4 linked regions of the Homo sapiens genome follow. The protein of the gene in region 2 purifies or fractionates together with the protein of the main gene of each other region. This does not show direct contact. Each region holds a gene or a part of one and is shown on either strand. Other genes may lie near its edges. The genes, in order: LTF, POLL, RIOX2 and SYN2.

Region 1 (7,741 bases), on a different chromosome or scaffold from region 2:
TCTCCTTCTCCCCCATTCTCTGCCCCTCTCTTCAGGGTGATCAGCAAATAAATGATCAATACTAAGACACCAAGGCCCTAAGAAGTCACTGGATGGGGTCCCGGGTGGATTTCTAGCTCTACTGTCCACTGGCTGTGAGACCATGAACAGGGTGCATTGCCCAAGTCCACTCAGCTGGAAACAGGTATAACAAGCACCTTTTGGTATTTCCAGAGCATCAGAAGCCAGCTGATGTGTGGAAGGGGCCAGGCAGGGCCTGCTTCACGGAAGGTTCAATTCTTGCCAGGTTCCCTTTGTGCTGAGATCCCTGGGCCTCAGTCCCTGCACCCTGAGCTCTCAGAGGGTTCTTGGCTCATGGAGGAGAAAGCCCCTGGCTGTGGGCCTAATGGGAGACTCAGGGATAGCAGTTGTATCTCACTCACTGTGTGACCTCAGGCGACACTCAGAGTACCTGTTTTTAGAATGGAAAGAGTGACTGTCTTAACTCACAGAGTCGTTGTTAAAGCCATGTGAAACAAAGTCACTGACAGCACTATTTGGATTTTAAAATGTCATCCAAATATTAAAGATTATTATCCTATTTCTCTGCTAGGGATGGCACAGCCACCCATACACAAACACACCCACACTAATGTGGACACTGCATGCCACCAATGATGAACGTAGGCAGCTGTGTGCTGGTCAACTGGCCCTCTGGGGGTGTGGAAGGAGGAAGCCCTGATTTAGAGCATTTGCTAATTCCATGGCATAAATACATCGACTATGCCTGATATCAAGCTGCCATCAGTTAACCCACCCCAAATCCCTAAATGTTTAACAAGTGGTTCTCAAGTCAGCAATCTCTCACCACTGGCAGGGAAAAGATACAGGGCCCAAGGTCTCCCATCTGCCAAGCTATTGTCCAAGCGTGAGTTGATGTCTCAGGAAGGCCTTTTCTGCCTTATCCCACCTGAAGCCAGTTCTACTCAGATCTCACACTTCCTTCCCAACACTCTTCTTGGGGTTTGAAGCTAGAGGCTCATAGAGGGCAGGGTGTGAGGTTTACTGGCTTGCAGGGAGGACTTAGGTTGGCCAGAGACTGTTGCCTGCTAATGGGGCTTGGGCCTGCAATTCTGTAAAGGCTCCCTGGAGGAGTTTTGAGGGTGGGGGCAGAGCAGGGTTAGGGGGAAGGGAGTCAGCCTCACACATCTGCCTGTTGAACACTAGCTCTTGCCACTGCATGGCAGTTTCCACAGCAGCTACCTTCTTTGTGCTCCTTAAACTCATGTTACTGTCTCAGCATTTGGAAACCTGCATTCTGCTTCCCTGCAGGCTCTTTGAGATCTGACCCAACTCCTGGCACGTTGGAGATGTCCCATAGACCAGTGTTGAATGAATGGGTAAGTTAATGAGTCCATGTACACAGGCTTTGGCATGGCCTGGCTTAGGCAGCCCTGACCCTCACTATCCTTCAGACCCAACACATTACAAACAGGATCCTTTGTCCCTTTCTTAGCCTGTTCCTCTTCCTCATTTATTCATTCCTTCAACCGATATTGATCATCAAGTGCCTATAACATGCACAGAGCTAACTGGCCAAAGGATTTGAGGGTGCCTCTGCGGCTCTTTGGTGGGTTTGGTGGAAAGCGGTAGGAAATATGAGAAAAGGTTCAGGGTTGGAGGGACTGGGTGAGTTGCATTTTCGATGCATTAAATTTAGGCGCCTTCAGGACCTGCAAGAGTACCTTTCCAGAGGCAGATGAACACATGATGTGGAGCTCAGGATAGAGGAGGAGGATTTTGTTAATCCTTCTTCCAACAAGAGTTCCAAGCCATGGCTGGGTGCAATGGTTTATGCCTGTAATTCCAGCACTTTGGGAGGCCAAGGTGGGAGGATCGCTTGGGCCCAGGAGGTCAAGGCTGCAGTGAGCTGTGATTGCACCACCACTGCATACCAGCCTAGGTGACAGAGGGAGACCCTGTCGGTAAAAAAAAAAAAAAAAAAAAGAAAAGAAAAGAAAAGAAAAAAAGAATTCCTGGCCAGAAAGCCAGAGGGAACTTTTGTTGTCCCTAGTGCTCAGGTAATTGGTCACTGGGTTCATGCTCCCAAGCCTTTACTTGTTTGGTTGTTTACTTTACAGAATGCTCTACCTGTAGAAATCCCACCCTTCCTTCAGGTACCCAGGCTAAATCTTCCTGGAGTTCTTCTGGAGCCCTCATGATGGGTGCTGGTCATTCCTCCTCTGGGCCCTCACACTCACTTGCTTTATGCTGCTTGGCCTCTTCTTAGGGAGCCTCTGTGATAGAAGTGCATTCCTGTGACTGTCCCTCCCCCATAGTGCTGTGAGCTCCTGAGGGCAAGGACAGACCCCTCTTCTCTGTCTCTCATGGCATCTACCAGTTCTGGCATGAATGAATGAATGAATGAATGAATGAATGCTGTTAATAGATCAGTGAAACTTCATTGTTTTTTGGGGCAGACTCATCCCCTACATCAGCCTCCTCTGCAAATGGCCTTGAGGGGCTGCTCTGCCTGTGTCCAGATGCTCACATCCCTGCCCTGGGGCTGGGCTGTTCCAACAGGCACAGCAGGAAAACAGTCTGCCCTGTTGCCTACCCATGCTGCCTTCAGGGCACTCCTTAAGCTGAGCCTCTTGGTAGTGGCCCCAGGTTCTCTGTGTTCTTGCCAACACTGTAACATACTTAAGAGGGCCCAGGGCCCTCTGACCTCCCAGTCATCCTTTTTTAAAATTTGGACTCAGAAAAAGAGACACGGGTTATGATGTTTCTTAATTCTTTTATAATGATGAAAAGGCAAAGTCTTGTTGCCAATTTAGGTACAAAGATGCTTCAGCACTCCTGGGAATTAGTCAATTTTGTATTTCTTCAGTATTTTTGAAAGAACTTATTGCAATTATTGATGATGGCAACTTTAAATGGTGCAATATCATGTTTCCAAACAATGAGAGACCTTGGATCTGTCACCCCAAAACCCAGCTGGTGATTCTAGCACCAAATCTCAGACCCCAGTCTCATGGCAGGCAAGCATGATCCCTGATTAGCCTCCACCCTGTGCCTTGGCAGGATCATGCCCAGAAATGGAGGGGCTCCCCAGCCTCCTTAATGGCCTCTCCACCTTGGGCTGAGCCTGCTTCTCCATGGCTAGGTGCCCACTGCATGCTCACTCTTGGCAGAGCTGGCTCCCTGGGGCATTGCCTATCTGCTCCAGGAAATGCTTTTTAGTACCAAGTAGTCTAAGCAGAGTCAAGACCAGCTTTTCAGAATAAGCAGATTTCAGAGTCACATATTGGTCAGACTCACCTGCCAAGAAAGGTGTTCAGGTGACCTATTATTTCCCTCACTGTTAGTACCTTTTTTCTTCACTTAGTTACCCTTTTTTTTTTTGGTGGGGGTTACAGAGTCTTACTCTATTGCCCAGGCTGCAGTGCAGTGACATGATCATGGCTCACTGCCACCTTCATCTCCCAGGCTCAAATGGTCCTCCCACTTTAGCCTCCCAAGTAGCTGGGACCATAGGCATACACCACCATGCTGGGCTAATTTTTGTATTTTTTGTAGAGATGGGGGTTTCCCTATGTTGCCCAGGCTAGTCTTGAACTCCTGGGCTCAAGCGATCCTCCCATCTTGGCCTCCCAAAGTGCTGGGATTACAGGCATGAGCCACTGTGCCCTGCCTAGTTACTCTTGGGCTAAGTTCACATCCATACACACAGGATATTCTTTCTGAGGCCCCCAATGTGTCCCACAGGCACCATGCTGTATGTGACACTCCCCTAGAGATGGATGTTTAGTTTGCTTCCAACTGATTAATGGCATGCAGTGGTGCCTGGAAACATTTGTACCTGGGGTGCTGTGTGTCATGGGAATGTATTTACGAGATGTATTCTTAGAAGCAGTATTCTAGCTTTTGAATTTTAAAATCTGACATTTATGGCGATTGTTAAAATGAGGTTACCATTTCCTACTGAATACTATCAACACCAAAAAAGAAGAAGGAGGAGATGGAGAAAAAAAAGACAAAAAAAAAAAAAAGTGGTAGGGCATCTTAGCCATAGGGCATCTTTCTCATTGGCAAATAAGAACATGGAACCAGCCTTGGGTGGTGGCCATTCCCCTCTGAGGTCCCTGTCTGTTTTCTGGGAGCTGTATTGTGGGTCTCAGCAGGGCAGGGAGATACCCCATGGGCAGCTTGCCTGAGACTCTGGGCAGCCTCTCTTTTCTCTGTCAGCTGTCCCTAGGCTGCTGCTGGGGGTGGTCGGGTCATCTTTTCAACTCTCAGCTCACTGCTGAGCCAAGGTGAAAGCAAATCCACCTGCCCTAACTGGCTCCTAGGCACCTTCAAGGTCATCTGCTGAAGAAGATAGCAGTCTCACAGGTCAAGGCGATCTTCAAGTAAAGACCCTCTGCTCTGTGTCCTGCCCTCTAGAAGGCACTGAGACCAGAGCTGGGACAGGGCTCAGGGGGCTGCGACTCCTAGGGGCTTGCAGACTAGTGGGAGAGAAAGAACATCGCAGCAGCCAGGCAGAACCAGGACAGGTGAGGTGCAGGCTGGCTTTCCTCTCGCAGCGCGGTGTGGAGTCCTGTCCTGCCTCAGGGCTTTTCGGAGCCTGGATCCTCAAGGAACAAGTAGACCTGGCCGCGGGGAGTGGGGAGGGAAGGGGTGTCTATTGGGCAACAGGGCGGGGCAAAGCCCTGAATAAAGGGGCGCAGGGCAGGCGCAAGTGGCAGAGCCTTCGTTTGCCAAGTCGCCTCCAGACCGCAGACATGAAACTTGTCTTCCTCGTCCTGCTGTTCCTCGGGGCCCTCGGTGAGTGCAGGTGCCTGGGGGCGCGAGCCGCCTGATGGGCGTCTCCTGCGCCCTGTCTGCTAGGCGCTTTGGTCCCTGTGTCCGGTTGGCTGGGCGCGGGGTCTCTGCGCCCCGCGGTCCCAGCGCCTACAGCCGGGAGGCGGCCCGGACGCGGGGCCAGTCTCTTTCCCACATGGGGAGGAACAGGAGCTGGGCTCCTCAAGCCGGATCGGGGCACGCCTAGCTCTGCTCAGAGCTTCTCAAAAGGCCTCCCAGGCCCCTGTCCCTTTGTGTCCCGCCTAAGGATTTGGTCCCCATTGTATTGTGACATGCGTTTTACCTGGGAGGAAAGTGAGGCTCAGAGAGGGTGAGCGACTAGCTCAAGGACCCTAGTCCAGATCCTAGCTCCTGCGAGGACTGTGAGACCCCAGCAAGACCGAGCCTTTATGAGACTTAGTTTCTTCACTTAAAGAAACGGCCTAACCATGGGTCCACAGGGTTGTGAGGAGGAGATGGGGCATTCGCACACCTTCCGTGGCAGAGGGTTGTGGAGGGGTGCGGTGCTCCTGATGGAACCCTGTGTCAGAGGGTTTGAGAGGGAAATGTCAGCCAAACAGAAGGAAGGAGTAGAAGGAAGGAAACAATTGTCAGTTCCATAACCAAAGTAATTTCTCGGGTGCTCAGAGGGCACTCCCCAGCGCTGCACATTAGTGACCTAAATGCGTGAGTGCGGAGCTCCCTGCAGCACCGGGAGGGGAAGGTCCCAGGCCGCAGCAGAAAGGGCTGTGATGGGCATCAGGACCTAGGCAGTGGGAGGGGCACAGTGAAAGCCCAGGTGTCACACCTCCCCAGCCCAGTGCAGCCTCCACTTGTCTTACGGCATCTACCTAAGGCTGGGAGCTTCCTGGATGGAAGAGGTGGCGGTGGATAGAGAGCAGCAGTGGGAGCCCAAACCCATCCTTGTCCCTGCCCTTCTGGTCTCCTGCTCCAAATTCCTTCCCATGGGTGTTGGTCATCCTTCTCTTCTCTAAGACAGATTGGGACTGGCCAGGACCCGACTGTTCTCTTCCCCTCAAGCTCCCTGGCGAGTGGCCTGTTGCACAGGGTTAGGGCCACCTGGGAGGGGCAGGAGAGGAAGGAAGCCTTGCCTTCCTGGAAGTGGTCATGGGCTGTGGTCCAGGATTCTGGCTCAGAGTTGCACCACTGGGTTTTATATTCACTTGGATCTTTAGTTGTTTTGGCGCCTACTGAGGTCTGAAGTTTGAATCCTGCAGTCAATTGGGATGGTGGCTTGTACCCCAAAGTGCCATTGCAACCCTTGTCCTTCCTGAGGAAAGGGTGGCAGTTGCCCTGTGGAATTCCTGCCCTGCTCCCCGTGGGTGTCCAGGCTGACAGAAGTTGGGTGAGTGGGGCCAGCTGGATCTAAGCCGTGTGAGCATTGGGTGGAGGAGTCTGTCTGCTTAGCCCTGGAGCCATGGGCTGGGAGGCACTCATGAGGTTTCCCATCAGTCTGAGCAGTCTGCTTGGGCCCTATCATGAGCTGTGTGGGTAGGTGGGGAGAGTAACTCCTGTCCTGGCCCCTGCCTTGGAGGCCAGCGCACTGCATGTCTGCCCAGAATGTGTGTTTTGGCCAGTGTCCAGCCAGGTCCAGTGGGCAGCATCTGAGTGCCTGACACTGAATACAAGTGTGGGGTTGAAGATTTTGGAGGGGCCAGACCTAGACCTGCTTCAGGGGGTCACATAGCTCCAGAGCTGGGAGGTAAGAGCTTGTGGGTCACACAGCTCCAGAGCTGGGAGGTAAGAGCGTGGAGACTTCACCTGGTGTTTGGGGGGCTGGGGACTGGGAATCCTGGAAGGGAGCTCAGCGGTCCTTTAGTCACTCTGGTTCAGCTCCTCTTAGGGGAAGAAATGAACTCTGCCCACAGGTTCCCGTCATTGCTCAGCCCCCACCTCCGGCTTGAGGCATGGTCTTCCATTTTACTCTCTCCCTTCACCCCCAGAACCCACCCATTACCAAGCTGATTTCTGATACCAGCTCCCTGCCCCCTTCTCTGTTCTCAGTGCTGTCCCCTCTCTCCACTCAGACTAGCCCTTCCCTGGTGCCTTCGTTGGCCACAGCTTCTCTGCCTGTTCCCAGGTCTCAGTTCACTCTGCCCCTGCCCTAGGGAGAGTCTCCCGTGAGTCACAGCTTCACTGCATCCTGAATAAGACCTCCCTGGATCAGCATTGGAGACTTTCCAGGATCTGACCCAGACCCTTTTCTAGCCCCATCTCCAACCTGTCTCTAACTTTGCCAACCTAAATAGGCAGGCTAGCCCAGTGGTAAGAGTAGGGGAGTTTAGTGCCTGACTGCTTAGGTTGGAGTCCTAGATCCAACACTTACTTATTAGCTATGGGAACTTCCACAAGCCACATAACTAGTTAAAGCCATAGCTCCCTCCCCTGGAGAATGGAGAGGTTGGCAGAATTCACAATACAGAGGAGCTGTGGCAACTAATGGAGACACGTATGTCTCCATTAGCTGGTATTTGTTTGGTATTTGTTCTCTTTTAACACATCCACCATTCTTAGCTTCCTCTTTTTGGATTTTTGCCTCTCCAGTGAGAAGTGAAATCTGGTCCTGTCCGCTTACACATTCCTTGCGTGACACACAGTGCTGTTTGTACAGCAGGCATCCAGTTAATGCTCACTGGGTCACAAATGGCTGCATCTGATTGGGTTAATTCTCAGTGTGGGATAGTTCTATAAAGGCTTCCAAGGCAAGATTATATTCCCTGGGATTTCCCCGGGATGAGGGTGGATGAAGGGGGAGTATGGCAGCTAGGTGTCCCCAAACCTCTGCAGACTCAGCCAGGGAGCTACAGGCCTCTTGCCCACCCAAGGGCCATGGGTGGCTCTCGCCATAAGGGGATGGCTCAGAAACAGGAGACAGCAGAGGCTGAACATTCTACCCCAT
Region 2 (6,894 bases):
ATCAAACCAAGCTCTGCTTCCAGTCCTCTGCCAGCCCAGCCTGCTCCTGACTCCCAGCACACAGTGTCCTCTCTAAAGCTGTTCCTTAATTGTCCCCAAACAGAGCCTGCTGACTCCTCTCAGAGGCAATTTCCCTGCCAGTCTGCCTCTCTCCTCCTCCGGGAAGCCTTCCCTGGCCGCCCATCCCTGTGTACACGGTCACCATTTAGTTGTTCCTAATGGTTTCCTGAGTCTTGTCACTTTTGCTCATGTCCCCTGATAGCCTGGTCTAAGGTAGGGCCTGCAGAAGATGCTGATGACTAGATAGGAGCTCTGGGTGCCTGGCTCCAACATTCTCCCTGGTCACAGCCACTGCTGTCCTTGCTGTGAGTTTAGGAGCTGACTCAGGCCAGTCCTGTCTGGAGGGCAGTTAACACAGCCTTTCTGGGCTCCTCTTTTCAGTTCCCATCTCTGTCGTCCCTGCCTGGGTGGAACAAGGTAGCCAGAGGCTGCAGCAGCTCAGACACCAGGCAGGTTCAATGTCAAATGCACTTTACTGGGCCCCTGGGCCTCCCAACACTGTCCTCACCAAGGCTGGGGCACCCCATTCCCAGCACCACCAGCTGCCCAGGAAGCAGGACGGATAGAGGGAACACATGTGGAATGGCTGTTCTCCTACCCCAGAGGGTGCCGGATGATGTTGACAGCACGGCTGCTTCCCTCTCCCCTGCAGCTTCTGTCCCCACCCAGCAGCTTGGCCTTTCCCATAGCAGGGAAGGGGGATACCTGGGGCTTCAAACCAGCCACCTGCTCCTGCTTAAAATGGGGCAAGGGGCCATTTGCAAAATTCTTCGAGGGGCAGTGGTGAGGTAGAAGGGGTGGCAGCCTGCTCCTGTCTGGGAGAGGGCTGGGCAGACACTGGGAGCCGGGCAGACACTGGGAGCCGGGCTGGCTCTTGCTTCAGGCCCAGAGCCCTGGGCCCTGCTCGCTGAGGAAGCTGGTGGTTGGAGCGGCGAGGTTCAGCCAGCTGAGGCTGGAGGGAGTACTGGGTGGCCAGGAGGGGTAGCCAGTCCAACTCGGCTCTCCTCAGCACCCCCAGCCATGGGTCACCAGTCCCGCTCAGCAGGTTCTCGGTAGGGGAGGCCTAAGAGCCTGAAGACATCCTTCTCAGTGGGAGTGGGCAGCACTCGGCCAGGCCCCACCTTGCAGCCATGGGTGTTCCGGACCACAGCAGTGCTGAGGGCATGTTCTGACAGACTCATGCCCTTGGTTTTGGCCAGGGCTCGCATGGAGCGGTTGAAGTGTGCAGAGCCGGTGAAGTAGAGCAGGGCACAGGCAAACTCGCTATAGGGCACCACGATGATGTCCAGGCGCCGGTGCCGCCGCCCTGGCCCTGGGAGCCGGCACACCCCCAAGTACTTCTGTTGCTGACCATTCTCCTCTTGGCTCACCAAGTCATCTGTGAGGAACCCTGGCCCAACAGAGGGGACTGCTGGGAGGGCAGGGAACCAGGCCTGGGCTGTCCCATCCTCCCAGGTCTCTCCTGATGTCTAAGCTGGGGCTTGCCCAGGTATTAGCTGGGTGACACTACCCTCTCTGGGCCCTTCTCCTTTTCTGTAAAACATGGATAGTAATTCCCATCTCCCCCATAGTGTCACAGAAAGATCAGATGAGATACTTGGCCTGCAGGGTTCACTGAGCACCTCCACATAGGTGTGGCGGGGCTGTTCCATCTCTCCCTGGAGAGGATTCCGGCCCCGATAGAGAGATGGGATGCTGGCAAAGCACTGTTCCCCTGCTTCCTGCCTCAGGACTGGAACTTCTGAGGTTCTCCCTCTGAGGGGGCCCCCAGACCTGTGCTGCCCTCTGTCAACCTGCTCACCCAGAGATGGAGCTTATACCTTCCTGCCGAAGACTGTCAAGGAGGCGGCTGAAGATACCCCGGTGGGACCGGCCATCTGGGTGAGTGATGAGCACGTCGACATCACCACAGGTCGCCTTTCCCCGTCGGTATGAACCACATGCCACACACAGCAGCCCAGAGTTAAAGGCCTGGGCTGCTTTCTGGACCTGGGAAAGAGAGCGGTGACAGGTGAGGGGCTGTGCGTGGGGAGCTCCTCTCCCACAGCAGTACAAGGGCCTTCCCAGACTCGGGCCCACACCCTCAGCTTATGCCCATTCCAGATGCCTGCTGCAAGCCCAGGGGAATCCACCCTGAGGAGCTGCTGTTCTTTCCCTTCGCTAGGACAGGAGAGAAGAAAAAGCTCACTGTGCAGGAGGCAAGCCTGAGGAGAGACGGGAGAAGGTGCCGGCTCTGCTTCTGAGAGTGGGCACTGAGCTTGCCCTGTGGAGCTCTTTAAGAGTAGGGAGACACAGACTCTCTCTGCCCCTGCCCCAGCCCACGTGCCCAGGTCTGTGAAACTCCACTTAGGACAAGGGGCCAGGTGCTGAAAGCCCTCAGCCAGGTCTAGGCAGCCCCAGATATCTACTGATTTGGAGCTAAAGGTTTGGAATATGTGAGCTGGGGTTTGAGGACTGAGCAGGTGGCTGGCAGCATGCGCCAGGCCCAGGCCCAGGAGAAAGTGGAGCACAGAAATACAGCTGCACCTGTGGGAAAGGAGAGGAAAGAAAGCAAAGAGGGGGCAGTTCTGAGCCAACACCCACATCCTTTCTTGGTGGGGAGGGAGCTGAGACAGCAACTGCCAGCTGAAGGATTGTCCCTCTGAGGAAAAATAAACCCATTAGCCTCCACCCCTGAGACACTGAGGTTCTTTCATATGCAGATGGCCTCCTGCCTCCACCCCAGGACACTGAAAATTCTGGGGCCCCGGACACCTCAAGTATCCTGACAGGAGGGCTCCGCTAATCCCCTTACTCCCTTCTTGAGCCTCCCAAGAGAATGGAAGGAGGAGGTCCACGTGAGTAATCCCATCAAAACTCCTATGGCTGGAGCCCTTAAATGGGGGCACAGGAGGCCAGGTGGGAAGCCTCTTTTGTTCCAATGGGCTGGGTACTGACTGAGGCATTCTCCATGCCCGGACACCATGGCTGAGTGACGGTGTCATCACTAGCACCAAGGCCTGGTGATGGGCAGACAAAGAGGCCTGTCCATCCATCTCATACCGGCCTCATAGCCTTGTGGCCTGGAATGGAGCTGGGGGCTGATTTCAATCAAACTAGGCCAGTCTCCATGGGATCCCACTCTATCAGAATCCCTGACCAAAGTGAGCAAAACTTGCCTATTACAAGCAGCTCCTAATCCTAATGCCCATTGAACAAATGATACATCTAGCCCTAAATGCAGTCCAGTGTCTCTCTAATCTAGCTTTTACATGAACCTAATCGCTAACCCAACTCTAAACCAAACCCAAATCTTATTTCTTGGACAACTACAAATCTTAACTTAAAAGCAACCAACATTAAGAAAATCCTACGCCTAATTAAAGCCTAACTTTAACTCAATCTTTTTTTTTTTTTCAGACAGAGTCTTGCTCTGTTGCCCAGGCTAGAGTGCAGTGGCACAATCTTGGCTCGCTGCAACCTCCGCCTCCCAGGTTCAAGCAAATCTCCCACCTCAGCCTCCCAAGAAACTGGGATTATAGGCATGAGCCACGGCACCCGCCTAACTTTTTTGTATTTTTAGTAGAGACGGGGTTTCGCCATGTTTGCCAGGCTGGAAATTTTTGTATGTTTTATAGAGACAGGGTTTCACCACGTTGGCCAGGCTGGTCTCGAGCTCCTGAGCTCAGATGATCTGTCCACCCTGTTCTCCCAATGTGCTGGGATTAAAGGCATAAGCCACTGTGCCTGGTCTTAACTCCATCTTGATGGAGCTTTCTTCCAGCCCCAAACCAAATCCTACTGACACTGTGCTTTTACACCAACTCTACCCCAAATCCTGAGCCAGCCTTGCGTGGGCTTTAGAAGGTCCATACATCTGGAAAAAGACATAAACCTTTGCACATTTGTGCATTTTGGGGAGAAAACAGTCCACAGTTTTCATCAGGTTCTCAAAGAAGTTGGTGAAATAAAAAAAAAAGATAAAATAAAATATTAAAACCCTCTGCCCTGACCCACCCTAACCTCAGTACAGATATAATTCACCTGTAATCTAACCCTAACATTAACCCAATCCTAACACCAATCAGTCTAGAATTGAATCCAATCCTAATAGGCCTGACTACTGAGAACCAGAATCTAGAGGGCTGGTGTTACAGCTCTTTCCTCCCAAAGCTCCCCACCCCCACCTCTGGGCCTGGAGCTTCAGTCTTAACTTGCTCTGTGCTCAACCTCTGGTGATCCACAGTTTCCTCTGCCTGCTGTCCTCCCCAGCTGAGGAGTTGGGGGTTCTTGGCTTTGACCCAAGACCTTACAGCAGGACCTGGCTGTCCTCACTGCTCTGGGACACCTGCTTACTGTCTGCTCAATCTCTGTAGCCTCCTCCCTGGGCATACGTTCCAGGAAGTCACTGTAATGCTTCAGGCCGATGGCCTGCTGGGTTGTCAGGGAGGCCTGGCTGCGGATGTCTTCCAGACTTCGGAAGCCCTGGAAAAAAGCAGCCAGATGGGAAGCTGTAAGGATCCAGGACCAATGAAGAGGCATGAGTGAGCACACACACAAGGCTTCCATCGCCCCAGACTCTAGGGAAGGCTAGAGGCAGGACCAACCTAGGGGCAGTTGGGTCTGTACTCAGCAGGACTTGGGAAAGGCAGGGAGCATGGGAAACATGCCATCATCCAGCCCTGCCACTATCCTAAGATGCTCGTTCATGATTCCATCAGTCTGAGGATGGACCTTGTCATCTTCATCCTTACCAAGCTGCCCTGGTGATTGTGGGCAGAGCCAGGATTGGGAACCACTGCTCTAGACACGCAGTGTCAAGGCCTGGCCTCCTCAGGAAGGCCCTTGCTGGTCTGGGGAGACTGAGAAACATACTTCTTGTCCCTGTCTACTCCTTCTTAAGGATACCAAGCAACAAGGCTGTTCTGGGAGCTGAGGGGTCTATATGAGTCCTGGTCCGCTTGAAAAATGGTCTCCCTATACTGTGGGTGCATTCCCATCAGAGCACAGCATAGGGATCTGGGGCAGAGCACAGCACACATCTGGGGCAGGAACTCTGAGACACAGCAAAACTGAAGTAGGGGCTGAGCCAGGGTGTGACCTGTTGGTACCACATCTGGGCAGTCTTGGTCCCAGCTCCCCAGATGTTGGAGAAGAGCTCCAAGACAGGCACGCTCTCACTGATATGGTCCAGCTTCCGCAAATGCCCGCTCTCCAGGATCTCTATGATTTTCTCAGCCATCCGCTTCCCAATCCCAGGGATACTGCAGGCCTCCTAGAGGAGGAGGAGGCAGAGGCAAGAAAGAAGAGTGAGGAGATGGAAGAGGTAGAGCCAGTGGAAAGGAAGCTGACTCCTCTAGCAGATGCTGACATAAAAGCCAGCCTGGCTGCTTGGCAACTGTGTGGCTGTGTAAAGCTTGGGTGTAGTTGAAGATGAGAATTTTGGATAGAATGAGGGCTGGGTAATTTGTCTTTTGGTTCCCAGAAGGATGGAGACCAGCAGTAAGAAGTAGAAAATAATGATGATATTAGTCACCACCACCACCACCACCATCATCATCATTCCAACAGCAAGAGCTAACATTTACTGAGGGCTTACTCTATGTCAGGTCCTGTGCTACAGGGACCATTTCATTTAATAGTAGCCCCTTTTTACTAATGAGAAAACTGATGCTTTGAGAGTTTAAGTAACTTGTCTGGAGTCACACAGTTAGTGAATGACAGGAACCAGAGTTCAAACCCTGGTCTGTTAGGCTTCAGAGTCCAAACTTCTTTTAAACAACTTTTTAGGCGGGACACAAGGGCTCATGGCTGTAATCCCAGCACTTTGCAGGGCTGAGCCGAGGGTAGATTGCTTGAGCCCAGGAGTTCAAGACCAGCCTGGGTAACACGGCAAAACACCATCTCTGCTAAATAAATGAATAAATAAATAAATAAACAAAATTAAAAATAAAAAACTTTTAATTATGTTAAAAAATTCAAAAGTAGAGAGATCCATATAACCCCCAAGTATCGTACATCTCCCAGCTTCAACAACTATCAAGATTTTGCCAATCTGCTTTCATCAATTTTCCTTTTTTTTCTTTTGTGCAAGTCCTAGACCCCATAAAATCTTCACCACTGTACCTGAACCCCACTGGGGTTACTAACCACTGGCCAGTAAAGACCCCTCCTCCCACTCTAGCCCCTGGGTACCTGGTACGAGGTGACAGGCTTATGGAAGCTCTTGAGGGCATTGATGGCCTTGGCATAGCCCAGGGCCCTCCACTTGTCTCCCTGAACACTGTAGGCTTTGGCCAGAACTTCCAGCTTCTCTGTGATATGGAGGTTGTGATTGGTCGCCTTCTGGCTTGAGGGCTGTGCACAGACCCACTTATCCAGGACAGCAGGGGCTGGGCTAGGCTCACAATCTCCCTCAAGGGAGGTGGGGTAGTGGCCACTGATGAGGGCTTCCAGATCAGCTGCACTAACCTGGGTTTCTTCCCCATCACTGGCTTCATCATCAGAGATGGGCTTGGGATAGAGAAGAAAAGAAAACAATAAATTCTTGTTCTCCAAGAGAAGGGATCCTTAAAGGTGGGGGTCATCTTCTTTGTGCGGGGGGAGGGTCTTCTAGTCAGACCTAAGAATGAGGCGGGGCCTTCTGCATCAGACTTGGATCTCCTTGGGTGTGAGGCCACGTTCCCTTTGGCTCCACGCAGTGCCTAGCCCTAGGATCCCCAGTGGTATGTGTTAGATATGGCCTAGATAAATGCAGCAGTGATGAGTGTTGGGAAGAGCTAAATGGCTTCACAATAGAGCCCTCCTCTCTCAGGGGCCTGGGACTTTCTGAACAGCCACCAGGCCCACCCCATT
Region 3 (7,852 bases), on a different chromosome or scaffold from region 2:
GTACTGCTTATGCAGAAGACGTTCCATAGCAGGCCTGACTGCTATCCTTTGAAAGTGCAGCTTGTGGCCGATGTCTGAGAACTTAAGATTTTGGGAGAGTTTCCACCACCATTAACTGATAGGAGTGGCTCACCATGCCTAAAATGTACAATCATTACAGTTTATACCAACACCTGCTTTCCTCTGGGAGTCTGGAAACGTTGGTATGTGCCAGGCAGGGGTGGCCTAAGTGAAAAGCCCCCAGTAAAAGCCCTGGGCACTGAGTCTCTAACAAGCTTCGCAGGTTGGCAACATTTCACAAGTGTTGACACAACTAGTTGCTGGAGCAACTGAGCACAGCCAGTGTGACCGCTCGAAGACCCTTGGAGCCTTGCACTTGGTATCCCCAGAACTTCACCCATGTGCCTCTTCCCTTTGCTGACTGTGCTTGATATCTTTTCCCTGTAATAAATCAGCCGAGTCCTCCTAGCAAATTGCTGAACTAAAGATGGCCTTGGGGACCACAGCACATTGCTCACGTTTAATTTTTAAAAACTTAGATTGGTTTATTAGGTTTGTATTACTAAAGGCACCCTATAGAGTCATTTTATATTCAGCCACACATCTCTTATCTCTCACAATTGGTCAGTTTAAAATTCATTTAAGGGGAGAGAGCAGGAGGAAGATGCAAACGAAAAGCTTTTCTTTAAGCATAATATATGAATACAGTATAAGCACATTCACCAGAAAGTGTGGCTAATCAAAGAATGCAAAACACTTAAGCCAAAATAAAATCACTTAAAAGAATCTTTCCCATCTACAATCACTAACAAACCCCAATACTGTATAACAAATGCTTTCCTTAGAATATAAATTTCACTACCCATACTGCCAAAAGTTACATCATTTGTTTCTCTGTGTTCATGTTGAAATGATTTGAGGCTCAGTTAATTGGAGCCTAAGCTTAGAGGTTTCTGGGCAAATACATTATTTCTCTGATTCTCACACTACTCATACTGTAAGACAACCATTCCTCTTAACAGCTTTCTAGAGCAGAGGGGAGAATAGATGAAGCATCCTACCACATTAAACATACAAAAGTCTTAAGGTACATATCATAATTTCGGAAACAGCAAGAAGTAAAACACATATCTTAGAATCCAATACTATAGTAATTAAAGAAGACAATGCTTTGTCTAGAATAGTACAGCCAACACAACCTTGCCCATAAGCCTTAGAGACCACCCCAATAGGAGTAAATATTTCTGTAAAATCACAGAAAAGTTTTTGAAGAGCAATTGTTTTCCATTTGAGTTGACTATAAGCATTAAATGTAAAAAGACTAAAAGATTTACAGTTCATACTTTGGTGACTACCCCACAGATAAACCCTATAAGAAAATCAATGTTGACAACCATACTATAGGCAACAGACAGACAGTCACTATATTTTAAAGGTACCCTAACCTCCTTTTCTATAATATTTGAGGACATGAAGACGTGAGGAAGCTCTTGAAGGAAAGGATTTGTATATCCCCGGAAACAAGCACGGTGTGGTACATAGGAGGTCCTCAAGAAATGTCTGCTGAATTTTTCACATTTTCATCTTTTGTCTGTATACAATTTTGGAGACAAACCACAAAGGCCTTACACAAAACAGTTACGGAAAAAACAGATGGCCTGTGCAGAGGGGATTATTTTTCTGATTGCAGCTGTCACTTCAGGATTCAAGAGTATCGTAAAAGCTAAAAGGCACTTTAGACATCAGTAGTTATTACTAAATCGGGGAGGGAAGTATGAATTTCTACATCCCCTGGGCAGTTTTACAGAATGTAGTTCAGAGTTACCAGCAAGGTTGTTAGCATGCAAATTTCTGGGCCCTCATCAAGCCCACTGGATTGCCACTTCTGATGGCTGAGGCCCATAATCTGCATTAACGTAATACGCTCTCTAGATGAATTTTAGGTCCACTAATGGAGGACAACAGTCAAACGCAGCTCAGTTAAACACACGGCTGTCAGAAATTATATATTGCTTGTAACAAGGTTGCCCAGACTGATCTAAAACATTTCTTTTTGGCTCAGAGATATGTTAATCAATCCAGAGGGAAAACTGGTTCTCCTATTGACCTAAAGGAGTGATCAGCAGTTATCTTTTTAGTCTGATTTTAGAGAGGAAACGGACTATACCTCAATGTATTTTCGTGACCATGAGGTTACAAAGCTTGATGTCCAGGAGGCAAAAACCAGTACCAGCAGAAGAAGCTGAGTAAATCAGGTTCCTCTGCTCAAAGATGAGCCCAGTGACATGAAACCCGAGGCACCAGATTTACAGCTAATGAGTGGCGAAATCAGATCCTCTTCCTCCCAGTCTATCCTTCCTGAAAACAGTGAATAACCTGGTCTCAGTAACCTGTTGGACAACCCAGCTGTCGGCCAATCGTTGCGGAATTATTTGCTGGTAAATGAATTGGAAGCATATGATGTAATGCAGCTGCCCTTCTCCCCACACACCTGAACTTCAGATTTCACAGCTGTAGAGCGTGTCTCTTAGGCCCGACATGACGCCCGGCGGCGCAGCCCACGTGGAAGCCGTGCTCGCACAGGCAGTTCTGCCACCACCGGGCGGAGGCCGGCACCACCCTCCTTGCTAAGCCTCCAAACTTTCCGTGCGCTCGTCACCGGTGTCGCGACCATTAGCAGGCCACGTGTGCGACTCTCTGTAACCAAGGCTTCCGCGACCCTACCCCTAGATCCGGGCCCCACCCACCCTGCCCCAGTCTCCGGGGAGGTGGGACGCCTGGGAGCGCGTCCCAGGTCCCGCAACCACAGCGCCGGCCACCGAGGCTTCTCGCCGACCGACAGGTCTCCCAGACCCGCACCCGAGCCCGGGTGCCTAAAGCAGCAGCGCGCGCCCCGCGGGATCGGGCACTACCCGGCCTGCCCCGGCGCTGGGATGCCCACGAGAGCGCCCCACTCACCCGGCACGGCCTGTTGCTCGCGGCCGCGAGCCCACTGCGTTGCGGCGCAGCGGCTGGAGGCGGGGCAGCGTGGGCACGCTCCGGGCCGTGCTCCAGCCCCCGCCCCGCCCCGCCACGCCGGCCCGCAAGTGGTGGCAGCCCGGAGGCCTGGCTACCCGGCGGTGTTCCGCGTTCACGCCCGGGCGTTTCTTTAGTCCATATGGAAGGAAATAAATGGCCTTTTTTTTCCTCTTTTTTTTTTTTTTTTTTTTTTTTTTTTTTTTTTTATGGTATGTGAGACAAGGTCTCACTCTCGCCCAGGCTGGAGTGCAGTGGTAGCGATCTTGGCTCACTGCAACCTTTACCTCCCGGGCTCAAGCGATCCTCCTGCCTCGGCCTCCCAAAGTGCTGGATTATAGGTGTGAGCCACCCACCCGGCTCTCCTTTTTTTTCTTTTAACTTGGGGCGGCAGGAGAGGATTTGAGAGAGCGTTTTGGTGCAACTCCGTTCCTTTTATGAATAGAGAAGCAGGCCTGAAGAGGAATACCAGCGGTGCAAGTTTAGGGAGTTGGTGGTCCGGGTTCTCCCATGGCTTTCTTATGGGCTGTGTGGCTACACAATGCTGATTTGTACAAGCCGAGTGTCATTTATATCATCTCGCTCCGGGAGAGAGAGTCAATCCTAGTTTTAAAAGATACTGGAAATTCGTTGCGACTATGGCTATAGAAACAGAAGAAATGCAGTTATCTGAGTCCTTTCAGCCTAACACTCCCTGCTTTGGAACATTTGGTTCCAGTCAGGAGGCACAAATGAGGGAGCAGGGAAATCAGTGGCGGGCCTGTGCCTTTCTTTGCTCTGTAGACAGCCAGAGGACCCAGAGGAAGTCGACATTTCGTTCCGTCAAGGTGACTGAGACCAGTGGCTGCTTCTAAGGATCAAGTGGCACATGAACAAATGGGAACAAAGTACACCCTTGTCTAGTATTTGTCTAAAACTAACAATAATAGCAAGTCTTGAATTGAGTTCTTCCTGGCTATAAGGCACCACGCTAGGTGTTTCAAATACTCCTCACTTCATCCTCACTACAACCTTGCAATTACCTCCATTTTACAGTTGAGGAAACTGAGTCAGGAGAGGTTAACTAACTTGCACAAGATCACACAGCTAGGAAGATGCAGAAACAAGATTAGAGCCAAACCAGTCAGTCAACTGTTGGTCTTTTTCACGTTTTACTAATACTCGTATAACTAGTAAGTTTCCTGGCAGGTTCCAGTTGGAAAAACTCGAGGGTAACATCAAATTTAGCCCTTACAGGGTAAAAAAGAATAGTCAACAGCAAAAATCTCTAGTTGATATGATATTGGTAATGTACTTCGCTCTTTATTTTGACTGCAAGACATCTACTCAAGATAATATAGAATAATATTGCTGTTCCCGGGATTCAGATAAAGGTAAATTCTCACACGTCCACCACTTGGAAAAGCAGTACGGTTGTAGAAAAAAGTTATAATGTCAACACAAAATACCATTTTCTCAGCATATAAAATGGCCGCAGGATGTCTAACAGAACAAAAGTACATATGGAAGTCAGCTTTGCAGGGGGAAATCATACATCTTGTGTAGGAGTTCCTCTAATGCAAAATTAGTATATCAGTATGTTCTCTCTGATTTTTTTCATTATAATTCCGATTTCTTAGCATAGCAAGCAAAAAAGTCATGATAGTTCCATTTTCAGACCTAAACAGTGCCCATCATTCCTGTGAAGAAAAGGAGAAGGGGCCAGGTGCGGTAGCTCACGCCTATAATCCCAGGACTTTGGGAGGCTGACGCCGGTGGATCACCCGAGGTCAGGAGTTCAAGACCACCCTGGCCAACATGGTGAAACCCCCGTCTCTAACAAAAATACAAAAAAATTACTCAAGCATGGTGGTGCCTGCCTGTAATCCCAGCTACTCAGGAGGCTGAGGCAGGAGAATTGGTTGAACCAGGGAGGCGGGGTTGCAGTGAGCTGAGATTGCACCACTGCACTCCAGCTTGGGCAACAAGAGCAAAACTCTGTTTCGGAAAAGAAAAAGAAAAAGAGAAGGAAAGTTAGTTTGTGCTTGGGTGACAAGAGCGAAATTCCGTCTAAAGGAAGGAAAGAAGGAAGGGGCGGGGAGGGAGGGAGGAAGGGGGAGGGAGGGAAGGAGGTAGGGGAGGAAGTAAGGGTGTGGTGGGATGGTATGGGAGTGGAGAATGGCTTGCAACCTTGCCTGAGAGGAGGAAGAGGAGGTGAGGAAGTAAGGGTGGCATGGGATGGGAGTGGAGAATGGTCTGCAACCTTGCCTGGGAGGCTTCTAGAATATATGGCCTTCCTACATGTATTGTTTCTGGTATTTTTTTTTTTTTTGGAAAAGTTCTTCCAGAGGACAAGATGCAGACTGCTATCCAGTCCCCACCATAGGTTCATTTAAAAGTCAGTTATTTTGTTTCTGTAATTAATTTTCTCATGAAAACAATGTTGTAGATGGCAGCTCTCAAGATCTGTCCGGAAAAGTCTAGAAGCCTCCAGATTTCTAATCAACAGACTAGCGCTCCTCCTCTGTAACTGAGGAACAAGATGCCAAGGAGACAGGAGAAAGAAGAGAATTCCCTTCATGTCTCGGCCATAAACCCTGAAACAGACTTGTCCATGAGCCTTGTAAAATAAGTTACATTTCTGCAGAGGTGCTTGACGTTCACACCGTTTGGATTGCTTTATTAAAAGACTCTTTTTAGAGCCAAGTTTGTCTTCCTCTTCTGTGGTCTCCTAGGCTCTTCTTCCTGTAGAGCTTTTGGTTTTTAGCCACCTCATTGTGGCTGTGCACCTGTCCAGCCTGGGCATCAGGCTGCAAAAGTGCAACCCTGTCCTACTCCTACCTCCAGTCACAATGATGCTGGGTGCAAAAAAATCTAAAAATGGTGGTGTGTAAATGTACTTTTTATGGTTATTAGATCTAACTCTGGAGGGGCCAGGTATATGAATTTGGAAAACTCTCTTTGCTAACATTCACTTTCCTCATTTATAAAGTAAGATTGCACCAGATGTACTGTGATATCCCTATTGGCACTCAAATTCCATAGGCTTAAGGGTCTGTGCTCCAATTTTCAAAGGGCATTAGAAGAAGAATCAGTCTGATTGGAATTACCTTTCAGTCTATAAACATTGAAGAACTTATAAAATGATTAATATTTGTATTTTTGTTGTAAAGCTTTATTTTATAATGCTACTGTGTCATACGATTCCAGGAAACACACATTGCTTTAAACTATGTGAGTACTGCCCCCTATGTGTTTGTATTCACTTTGGTCCAGAAAATATCTAAACCATGTCTTTCTAGTATATGACTTTAATATTTATACCACTATATTGGGCTAACTTTTTAATATAAGGAAACAGACACATCAAGGTTAAGGAACTTGCTCAAAAATACATCATTTGATAGTCCATTTTTTTCATTTGGGCTGCTATAAGAAAATATCTAAGACTGGGTGGCTTATAAGCAACAAAAATGGACTTCTCACAGTTTTGGAGGCTTGTTCTCTGGTTCACAGAGGACACCTTCTAGCTGCATCCTCACGTGGTAGAAGTGGGAAGGCAATTCTGTGGGTCCTCTTTATAATCCCATTTATAAGGCTTTACCCGCGTGACATAATCTACTCCCAAAGGCCCCACCTTCCAATCACATTGGTGATTCTGTTTCAGTATATGAATCCAGGGTGGGGACAAACATTCAGACCATAGCACCCATACTGCCTATCAAGTAATATTCTTTGGACCTCTGTTTATGTTTCTCCAAAAGTGGTTAATTTCACCTAACTCGGAAAGATGCTGTGAGTTTCAGGTGAGGTGGAGTAAGCAAAAGAGTTTTAAAACTGTAAAATGCTATTGAGTGTGAGAGGCATTACTGTTAAATCCCATATGACATCTTGAACATGATTCCATGGAATGAATTAAATGCAGTTGGGCCTTTTATACATGCATACTTCACTTAATTTACACAATTCATCAAGCAGAGTACCTTCAAATTGATGTCATATCACCATGGGATAATCTTGGTGTCTTAGTACCTTCAGAAAAGTCAAATTTGTTTAACAATGACCCAGGCCGAGGTCTTTCAAGACTATAGTAGTTACGATACAGCTCATAGAACTCAACGTACTTAACTTGATAACAAGCATACCATCACCGTTTGGAATTATATTTTGCATATTTATAAAACTATGATTTAAACTCCTTGGGAGCAAGAAATGTGCTTCTTTAATTCTGAGAACTGCAACAGAGTTCTTCACAGAGTAGTTACTCTGTTTACAAAATTGAATTGGGTAAGCATTCCTATTTTCTTTTCTTGCTTAGAGTCCAATTTCTTTTACAGCCTGTGCCTATAGGAAAGTTGGTGTTAGGCTGCATGACTTTTCTTAAATGATTCTGCAGACCTCCTTTCTCCAGCAACCCAGCACTTGCAGGTGAAAATATGCCTCAGGATTTTCCAATGACTTTCCCTTACAGAGATGTTTTCTTACTTAACATGTTATCATAAATCTTGAAATTGACTTGCCCAATTCTTATAAAAATATGTACTCCTGCAGAGGTGCTTTCTGCTCATACTCTTTGGGTTGCTTTGTTAAAAGGTACACAAGCTCCTATTGAAAATGTTTCCTACAAGACTAACAGAATGTATATATGGGTCAGGAAGCCCCAATATTATGATGCAACATTAGTTTACTTATTTTCCTTTAAAATATCATAATGACCTAAAAATGACCAACTAAGGTGGTACTAGTCAGGTACTGATGGGTCTGTTAATGAAGTTTTTTAAAACTTTCAAAGAAGAGAAAAATATACCTCATATAAACTGGTTCTGAATATAGAAAAGGAAAATAACTGAAAAAGAAA
Region 4 (7,632 bases), on a different chromosome or scaffold from region 2:
CAAATTTAGGCCCATATTAGAAGAGCAATTCTGGGAACTGCTATTAAGCACAGAAACACAGGAGCAAAAAACTGTTGTCAAGAACTAGACTTGAACTGGGCTTATGAGTTTTAATAAATCAATGTTATTACTTCAGAGAAAATAGGAAAACAGTTGGGAGTCAGCCCACGGGAAAGTGGCTTCTATGACTTCCATCAGAGGCTTCTAGTCTCCAGGGCAAGGCAAATTCTCTAGTTTATGCCAAATAGGCTTCCTAGAGAATACTATCCAAAGAGAGTTTCAAATCTTAAGCTACAGAAGCATTTATAACTAAACAGAAATCTGCAGCAGCTTCATCATACCCATACAAATAAGTATCAGTACCTATCTATAGATACCTAACTGGCAATAAGACTCAAAACAAGTGCATTTAATAGGATAAGAAATCAGGACAAGGTACAGAAGGGTCAAATTCCTGCACAGAAAAATAAAGCACGAATGTCATTCTCATTTCTCCTCTTCCTTTTCTTGGCCTTTCTTCAAGATTCATCTTTTGTGAAGCTTTCTCCAATAACTCTGGCTCTCACTAACCACTCCATTTGTTGACTGCCTGAAACACTAGTCTCAACCAATAATTCTAGATTTCTTTTTAACTGTTTCATGTATCCACTTTGTGTCCCAATTTGAGTGAGTTCTCTTAAAAGGCCCCCACACTGCCTAGAGGGAGCTTGTTATTAATATTGCTAATAATAATAGTGAGGCAATATAACACAGTGGAATGAAAGCAGTGGAGTCAAACAGGCCTAAGTTCAAATCCTGCTTCTACCACTTGCTGGCTACATGATTGTAAACATATTACTTACCTTTCCTAAGCCTCAGTTTTGTGAAGAAAATGCAATGAGATATCATGCTGAGAGTACAGCATTTGGCATATAATGGATGCTCTGACTGAGCACCTTTACTAGCTTGGTTACCTTCCCTTCCTCCGTAATAAGCACTTGTTGATATGAACTGAGTCAGAGTAATTCTAAGGAGGGCTGCCAGTGGCACTATCATATGCATTACACTTTCCCCATTACCCTCTTCCATGTGCCTTTGTCATTTCCTGGCAAAAGTCCTTTCGGATTTTCTACTCTACTCTCTTGAAAAGGCCAACCACATAAGTCACCCAAAGGACTATTCAGAATGGTGACATTAGCAGCCAGCAGGAGGGCATCTCCACATCTGCATCTCATTTCCACCACACCCACACGCCAGCACTCCCTCCCTCTGGGTCTCCCAAAGAGAGAATGCTAGAGAGAGAAAGCAGTGAAGCAGCCAAAAGAGGAAATGGAGAGAAATAGCTCTGTGGTCTCTCTGTGCACCCCTCCTGGGAAGAACACTCAGGTCCAGTCTCCAACCTCAACCCCTATGAGAAAAAAAAAAAAACAAAACCCTTGCTCACATTCCTGGAGAAAAGGCACCCCCAGATTCTCGGCCTCTTCATTTCTCCAAGCCCTTCACCTATCAATTTCACCATCCCACCATTCCCTAGGTTAACTATAAAATAGAGCCGCTTTTAACTAATTTGTCTTCAGTGGACCTCATTCGTACTTTTACCAAGCAGCAGCCTTCACCATTCTAAGTTGGAAACATGCTACCTATCTCTTTAGAAGAAAAAAAAAATTATTGAAGTTTCCCATCTACTACATTAAGGCAGGTCTCCTTTTATTTGTACCCCTTTAATGATCCAGTATATTTTACCAAGGTCTTCATCTTTCAGCTAGAAAAAGCTACCATTCACTTCCACGCCCCGCCCCCCACCACGCACATTTCAGAAAAACAAGCAATCAAAAAAAAAAAAAAAAAATTCCACACGTCCCCTCCCTGCTGCACAAAATACAACAATTTTATTATTCATAAAGAGACTTCAGCCATGCTCCGGGGAACAAGCCCGTGTACACCTGGGCCACTACATGTGTGATTTCATCAACCTGATGTCAATACTTGATATCAGCCTTCATGGGTCCTGGTTAAAAAAAACCCACCACCACCTTCTCCCTCCAAAATACCAATTTCCATTCCAAATTCACTCCGTGCTTCATGAAGTTAAACCTTTTTTACTGGCCCTAAATGTTCCTTCGGCCTCCTGGGACTATTTCACTTCAGATTTTATGTGTCTAAGCTAACAAGTGTGTCCCCTCCTCTACCCCCAAAAAAACTATTTCCTAAGGGCCTTTCCTGTTGCATAAAGTAGCTCCTTCTTGTATGGGACCTGGGGGACCTGGGGCAATTGAGGGGTATTTTAGCTTTGGGTTCGCCTTTCCGGGCTGATGGATGCCCTCCCTCACCCCGCAAACGCGCGCGCGCTCAGCCCGCACCTCCTCCCAGCGGGACCTCGGGGACCCTCCTTTTTATTGGTCTGAAACGTTTCCTCGGCGACCTGGGACCGTCCTCTCCTGGCCTGCGGCTGCCGGCGGACCCCGACCCCCGAGGGCGGCGGCGCCCGGCACCTACCAGTCGGCGTGCGGCTCGTCGACCACCAGCAGCACCTTGGCCTTCCTGGCGGCTGCGGGCGCGGGAGCGGGCGCGTCCACCAGGCCAGCCGAGGCGGCCGTCTGCTTCACGGCTTGGGACAGCGAGCTGAAGAAGCTGCTGCCCACCGACGGCGTCGGCGCGGGCTGCGGCGCGGGCGCCGAGGCGGGCGGCGGCCTCCGCTCCGGGCCCGGCGAGGCGGTCGGGGGCGCCGCCGAGGCCGAGGCGGCGCCCGGACCGGGGGGCGGCGGCGGCGGCGGCTGCTGGGGCTCGGGCCGCTGCAGGTCGGTCATGTAGCCGTTGGGCAGGTTGGCGATGAAGCTGCTGTCCGACAGCCGGCGCCGCAGGAAGTTCATCATCTGGCTTAAAGGGCTGGGGGCGCGCGGGGCTACGGGGTCTGGTGGCGCGGAGGGAGAGCGAGGGCGGAAGGCGAGATTGAGGCGACTGAGGCGGCTGAGGCGGCGGCTTAGCCAGCAGAGACTCAGGCCCCGGCACCAGACCCCGCAGACAGCAGCGGCGGTCTGGGCCAGGCAACCCGCGCGGCGCGAGGCTCGCGGAGAGGGAGCGGGCGGGGCAGGGGCGGGGCCAGAGATAGCCCCCGCCCCGCGCCGCAGAGGCGGCCCCGCCCCGCTCACGGAGGGCACCTAGCCGCGCGTCTGGCGACTCTCGGGGCTTGCAGGAGGGGGCGACCCAGGCCTCCAGCAACCTGAGCGTGACTATGCGGGGAGGGCGTGGGAGCCAGGCCTTCTCCCCAGGGGAAGGAAAAGGAACCAGAGGCCCCACCATCTTTTTGGTTGGAGAGAAAAAGAGCCGTGTCCCAGCTGAAATGGAGGCGAAGGAAACCGACCCCACTCCTTTTGGAAGGATAAGAGGTGTCAGCCTCCCTATGCGGAGGTGAGAACGAAAGGAGTCATCCCAATCACGCGCGCACACACGCACACAAGCACGAACACCCTGTAGTGAGGAGGAAAAGAACCACCTCCTTTCCCAACGCTGGGGAGAAAGATGTCATCTCCCCAGCCCCCAGAAGAGGGGGAAGGGAATAATCCGCTGTTACTAACACACACACACACACACGCGCGCGCGCGCGCGCACACACACACACACACACACACACACACACACACACACCCTATGGTGAGACAAAAAAGAAATACCTCTTCTAGGGAGGAAGGCAGCCTCCTTACTCCAAGGCGAGGGAGAGGAAAGGGGAGAAACAGATCCTCTCTACTCTGTCATGGAAGGAGGGGTGGGGTGTGTTTTCACTCCTGCACTTCTAGGGACAACAACAGTATGTACTTCTCTCCCCCTCCTCACTGACCAGTGAGAGAAAACCAAGAGAAGACTGGAGACATGGTCTCCACCCCAAGAGGGATATCTAAGGATCCCCCAACCCCACCGTGTTTCTTTCCTAGCATGCATTGATGCATCCAGTGCTATACCAAGAAGGACATCTCTTCAAGATCTTTCTACTTGTTTTTTCCATTTTATTCGTTGCCTTGACCTCTGTGAAGACATTTCTGATGGCCACCTTCCCATGTGCACTCTCTAAATCTTGCGTGACTCTTGGACCTTTAGTTTTCATCTCTCATTAGATATACTTTCCCTTGTGTTGTAATGGAGCAGGACACAGCAGATAGGCTTTACAGCAGACTACCCCGGGTGATATGTGACCCTGGATCAATAACCCCTGTGAGCCTCTCTCCTTAGCTGATAAAAAGGAATAAGTAACCCTTTCCAGAGTTGTTACATGGAGTAAATGAGATCATGTATGTAAAGCATCTGGTACACAGCAGTAGGTATTCCAGTAGTGATGCCTGAATTCTTTTTTCAATTGGTTCTCAGTAAGTATGTACTGGGCTGAATGGAGTCAGGGAGTGGCTTGTCACTAATGTTGGTGGGCAGTTCTTGCTTCCTGTATCCCAGCTGGCACTCAACTCAGGGCCTAGAGATACACAATCCAGCTCTGAGCCGGTGCTATCAGAGAAGTCTCCAGTCAACTATAATAACACAGTGGTCTTCCTATCTACTACATGCTTGGCACAGTGGTAAGAGCTGGAAAGGCTGAAATGAATGGGAAGTGGCTCTTGTCTATTGCAAGTTCATGATCTATGTGGGCTGGGGGATGGAGGGAGGATAGACACAGGAACCACATAAGATGTGAGAAATGCTATCATACAGTTGGGCAAAGAGGGTTAGGAGGCCTAAGGAGGGAGGGACTCATTCTGCCTCTGAGACTTAGGAAGGCCTCTCAGAGGAGGTGACATTTGAGGTGGATCTTGAGGCAGCTATGTTTACCAGTAGAAAAGTGAAGAAGGCAGGCAGGCAGGCAGCCAGAGAAGGCATGGAGAAGGTATGTAAGTTGATGGTTCCTCCAGGAAGCCTTTCGTCAATCCTCCAGGGCGGGCTAAGTGTTCCATATCCTGTGCTTGGCTTTGTCATAGACCCCAAAGAAACTATCATACAATATTCTGGTGACTAGAATGTAAGCTTTTCTAGGACAGGATTATGTCTTAGTTATCTTTGGGCTTCACACCAAACACAGGACCTGGCATGTAATAAGGACTCAGTTGTTTGAGAATTGAACTGTAATCTTACCCAACTCGGTTTTTGTGTTTATTGGAGAATAAAACTGATAAGTCACTAATAACATAATTAAATAAACTTAATTATTGCCCTTCTTAAAAAAAAATTTTTTTTTTGAGATGGAGTTTCGCTCTTATTGCCCAGGCTGGAGTGCAATGGCACGATCTCAGCTCACCACAGCCTCCGCCTCCCGGGTTCAAGCATTTCTCCTGCCTCAGCCTCCTGAGTAGCTGGGATTACATGCATGCACCACCATGCCCAGCTAATTTTGTATTTTTAGTAGAGATGGGGTTTCTCCATGTTGGTCAGGCTGGTCTCAAACTCCCGACCTCAGGTGATCTGCCCGCCTCAGCCTCCCGAAGTGCTGGGATTACAGGCATGAGCCACCACGTCCGGCCATCAAAGGCATGTATCTCTAATGAAGGGATTTCAGACACTGTGTCACTTCAATTTTGGGGGTGATAGGTTTTTTAAAATAATATTTCAGTAAGTAATTTCCCCAACCGTTAAGCTTATAGTATATGCATATATTTTTAAAATCAACCAATTAACAGACGTGTTTTCATGCCTAATACATGCAAGCCATTATGCTAGGGACAGGAGGGTAAAGGAGATTCAGGGATGAATGAAACCCAAGTTCTTAAGAAGACAGCTCATAAACATGTGAACACATAACTAGCAATAGCAGAGCAGCCTGTGAGTGACCTGAAAGTAGAGCAGGCAGTGAGTGTTAAAGGAGCCAGAGGAAGAAGAGATCTCAGGGACAGGAATTTTCACAGAGAAAGAAAGGCTCAGGCCTTATAAAATGGGCGGAATTCTGACAGGCAGGAAAGAGTGGATGGAGAAGGCAGCCAAGGTAAAAAGGATAGCCAGAGCAAAGGCTATCCCTTTGAACTTCTTGAATCTCCTCCTTGAAGGCAAAAACCTTGTCTGTGTTGTTTCTCACTGTCTTTCTTGAGCTTTTCATGGCACTGGCATATGCATTCTAGTGTTTGTAGGGGTGGCTCTGAGAGGCTGTACTTATGCATATGTTTATGTTGCTAGTGTCTGTCCAGCTTCTCTTTTTAGATTGCAAGCCCCTCAAGGTGAGGGATTCTGTCTTCTGATTTTCTCAGAATGATCTACAAAGCCTCTAACACATAGTAAGTGACCCAGTTGTGGGAGCTAGATCAGAATGTTCTCTAAAATGTTATTTTAGAGCCCTTCATAGAAACCATGGAGGCCTACAAGATCATTTAAAAATGTTTATCAAATATTCCATTAATTTATTACATTGTTTTCTGGTAGGTTTTAATAAGAATATTATTCTTGTGGAGGAACAGACTGTTTTCATATAATTGGGCATAAGTGGTCATTGATCAGTTGTGTATGATCAGAAGTTTTCATTAGTTAGTACAACTGTAAATCACATCTGCTTAAATCAGTATCTTCCGGCTTGCAGTGAGTCCTTGCCAAGAAGTGTTTTTGCATGCTGCAGAAACATGCAGTGCATCGTGTCTTATTATAAATGGGCTGTAATGACAATATTTCCCTTATCCTTACCTGTGGATCTGGGTTCCCGATACAGGTAGAACATAGCACTATTACTCTGTCGCCTACCTTTTACCTGGAATATGAAAGGATAACTGGATTTGGACTCAGGAATGTCTATAAAATATGAAATTTTCTACCTATCTCCCTCTTAAGACCAACCAGCATTTTCCCGTCATCTCCAGGTAGAAGGCATTTCTCCCACAGCAATCGGTGTAGGGGGTCTCTCCCACCTTTCTTCATCCCTCAGTGTCTGACTTAGCCACTGAGATTCTCACTGTGAGAATCTCAGAGGTCTCTTCCAGTTCTAGAAGCCCAGGACTCTTTGAGATCCTTCCTTTGTAATCTTTATCTTCCCACTGAATTTTGAACACAATTAAGCATCTGGCAACTGCAGATGAAAGAATCCTGCTAAAATCAAGCACCAATTTAAATGCTTTATCGCCTGATTTCTCTCTTCCCTTGAGCAACAGTGCAGCTGAGATAGCTCACAGAGAGAGAGGCTGGGTACATGACTGAGGAGCAATTTTGTCTCTGTAGGGCAGAGCTCAGAAACCTAGCTTAAAGGAAAGCCTGGTGCATGGAGCCACTTGGCAAAATGCTTGTTGTCTGGGTTTCCTCCCAAATAAGAAAGGAAACCATGACATCCTTGGCTCCTGCTCACTACCCAGGGTCAGGGACCCCATTTAGACTCGCCTGCTGTAGAGGAAAGTAGAAAGAATCTGGAACTCAGAAATTGTACATCCTAGTCCTGCTCCATCACTAGTTGGCATTGCAATTTTACACAAGTTGCTCTGGTCTCTGGGCCTCATATGCAAATGGAGAATGAAAGTGTCTGCCTGACTTGGGCCTCTCATAAAATAATCTGGAAAGCACTTTGAAAGGGACAAAGCTGTACCAGAAGAGGCATCATTATTGCCTTCTACACCATCTTGTTACCTGTCATTTTGGAGACCCCAATGATGAGAGTTTGTCATCTCCATTTAGATGGTCCTTCTTGACAATGCTGCTAGCAGCCTGTGG

What was found.
Region 1: the proteins of POLL (region 2) and LTF purify together in Homo sapiens (affinity purification with mass spectrometry; 3 studies listed by BioGRID and IntAct, with this or other methods). This does not show direct contact.
Region 3: the proteins of POLL (region 2) and RIOX2 purify together in Homo sapiens (affinity purification with mass spectrometry; 3 studies listed by BioGRID and IntAct, with this or other methods). This does not show direct contact.
Region 4: the proteins of POLL (region 2) and SYN2 purify together in Homo sapiens (affinity purification with mass spectrometry; 3 studies listed by BioGRID and IntAct, with this or other methods). This does not show direct contact.

What each region holds. Positions count from the first base shown.
Region 1 is NC_000003.12:46,461,890-46,469,630, reverse strand, and holds the start of LTF (lactotransferrin isoform 1 preproprotein), read left to right. Parts: upstream 1-4,725; 5' UTR 4,726-4,763; coding exon 4,764-4,806; intron 4,807-5,976; exon of another isoform or gene 5,977-6,187; intron 6,188-7,741. UniProt on the Homo sapiens protein: Transferrins are iron binding transport proteins which can bind two Fe(3+) ions in association with the binding of an anion, usually bicarbonate. Lactoferricin binds to the bacterial surface and is crucial for the bactericidal functions.
Region 2 is NC_000010.11:101,578,368-101,585,261, forward strand, and holds the end of POLL (DNA polymerase lambda), read right to left. Parts: intron 6,553-6,894; coding exon 6,235-6,552; coding exon of another isoform or gene 6,069-6,234; exon of another isoform or gene 5,983-6,068; intron 5,315-5,982; coding exon 5,141-5,314; intron 4,525-5,140; coding exon 4,396-4,524; intron 2,050-4,395; coding exon 1,881-2,049; intron 1,472-1,880; coding exon of another isoform or gene 1,451-1,471; coding exon 1,086-1,450; 3' UTR 515-1,085; downstream 1-514.
Region 3 is NC_000003.12:97,969,423-97,977,274, forward strand, and holds the start of RIOX2 (ribosomal oxygenase 2), read right to left. Parts: upstream 3,010-7,852; 5' UTR 2,959-3,009; exon of another isoform or gene 2,168-2,958; intron 1-2,167. UniProt on the Homo sapiens protein: Oxygenase that can act as both a histone lysine demethylase and a ribosomal histidine hydroxylase. Is involved in the demethylation of trimethylated 'Lys-9' on histone H3 (H3K9me3), leading to an increase in ribosomal RNA expression.
Region 4 is NC_000003.12:11,999,772-12,007,403, reverse strand, and holds the start of SYN2 (synapsin-2), read right to left. Parts: upstream 3,017-7,632; 5' UTR 2,853-3,016; coding exon 2,476-2,852; intron 1-2,475. UniProt on the Homo sapiens protein: Neuronal phosphoprotein that coats synaptic vesicles, binds to the cytoskeleton, and is believed to function in the regulation of neurotransmitter release. May play a role in noradrenaline secretion by sympathetic neurons.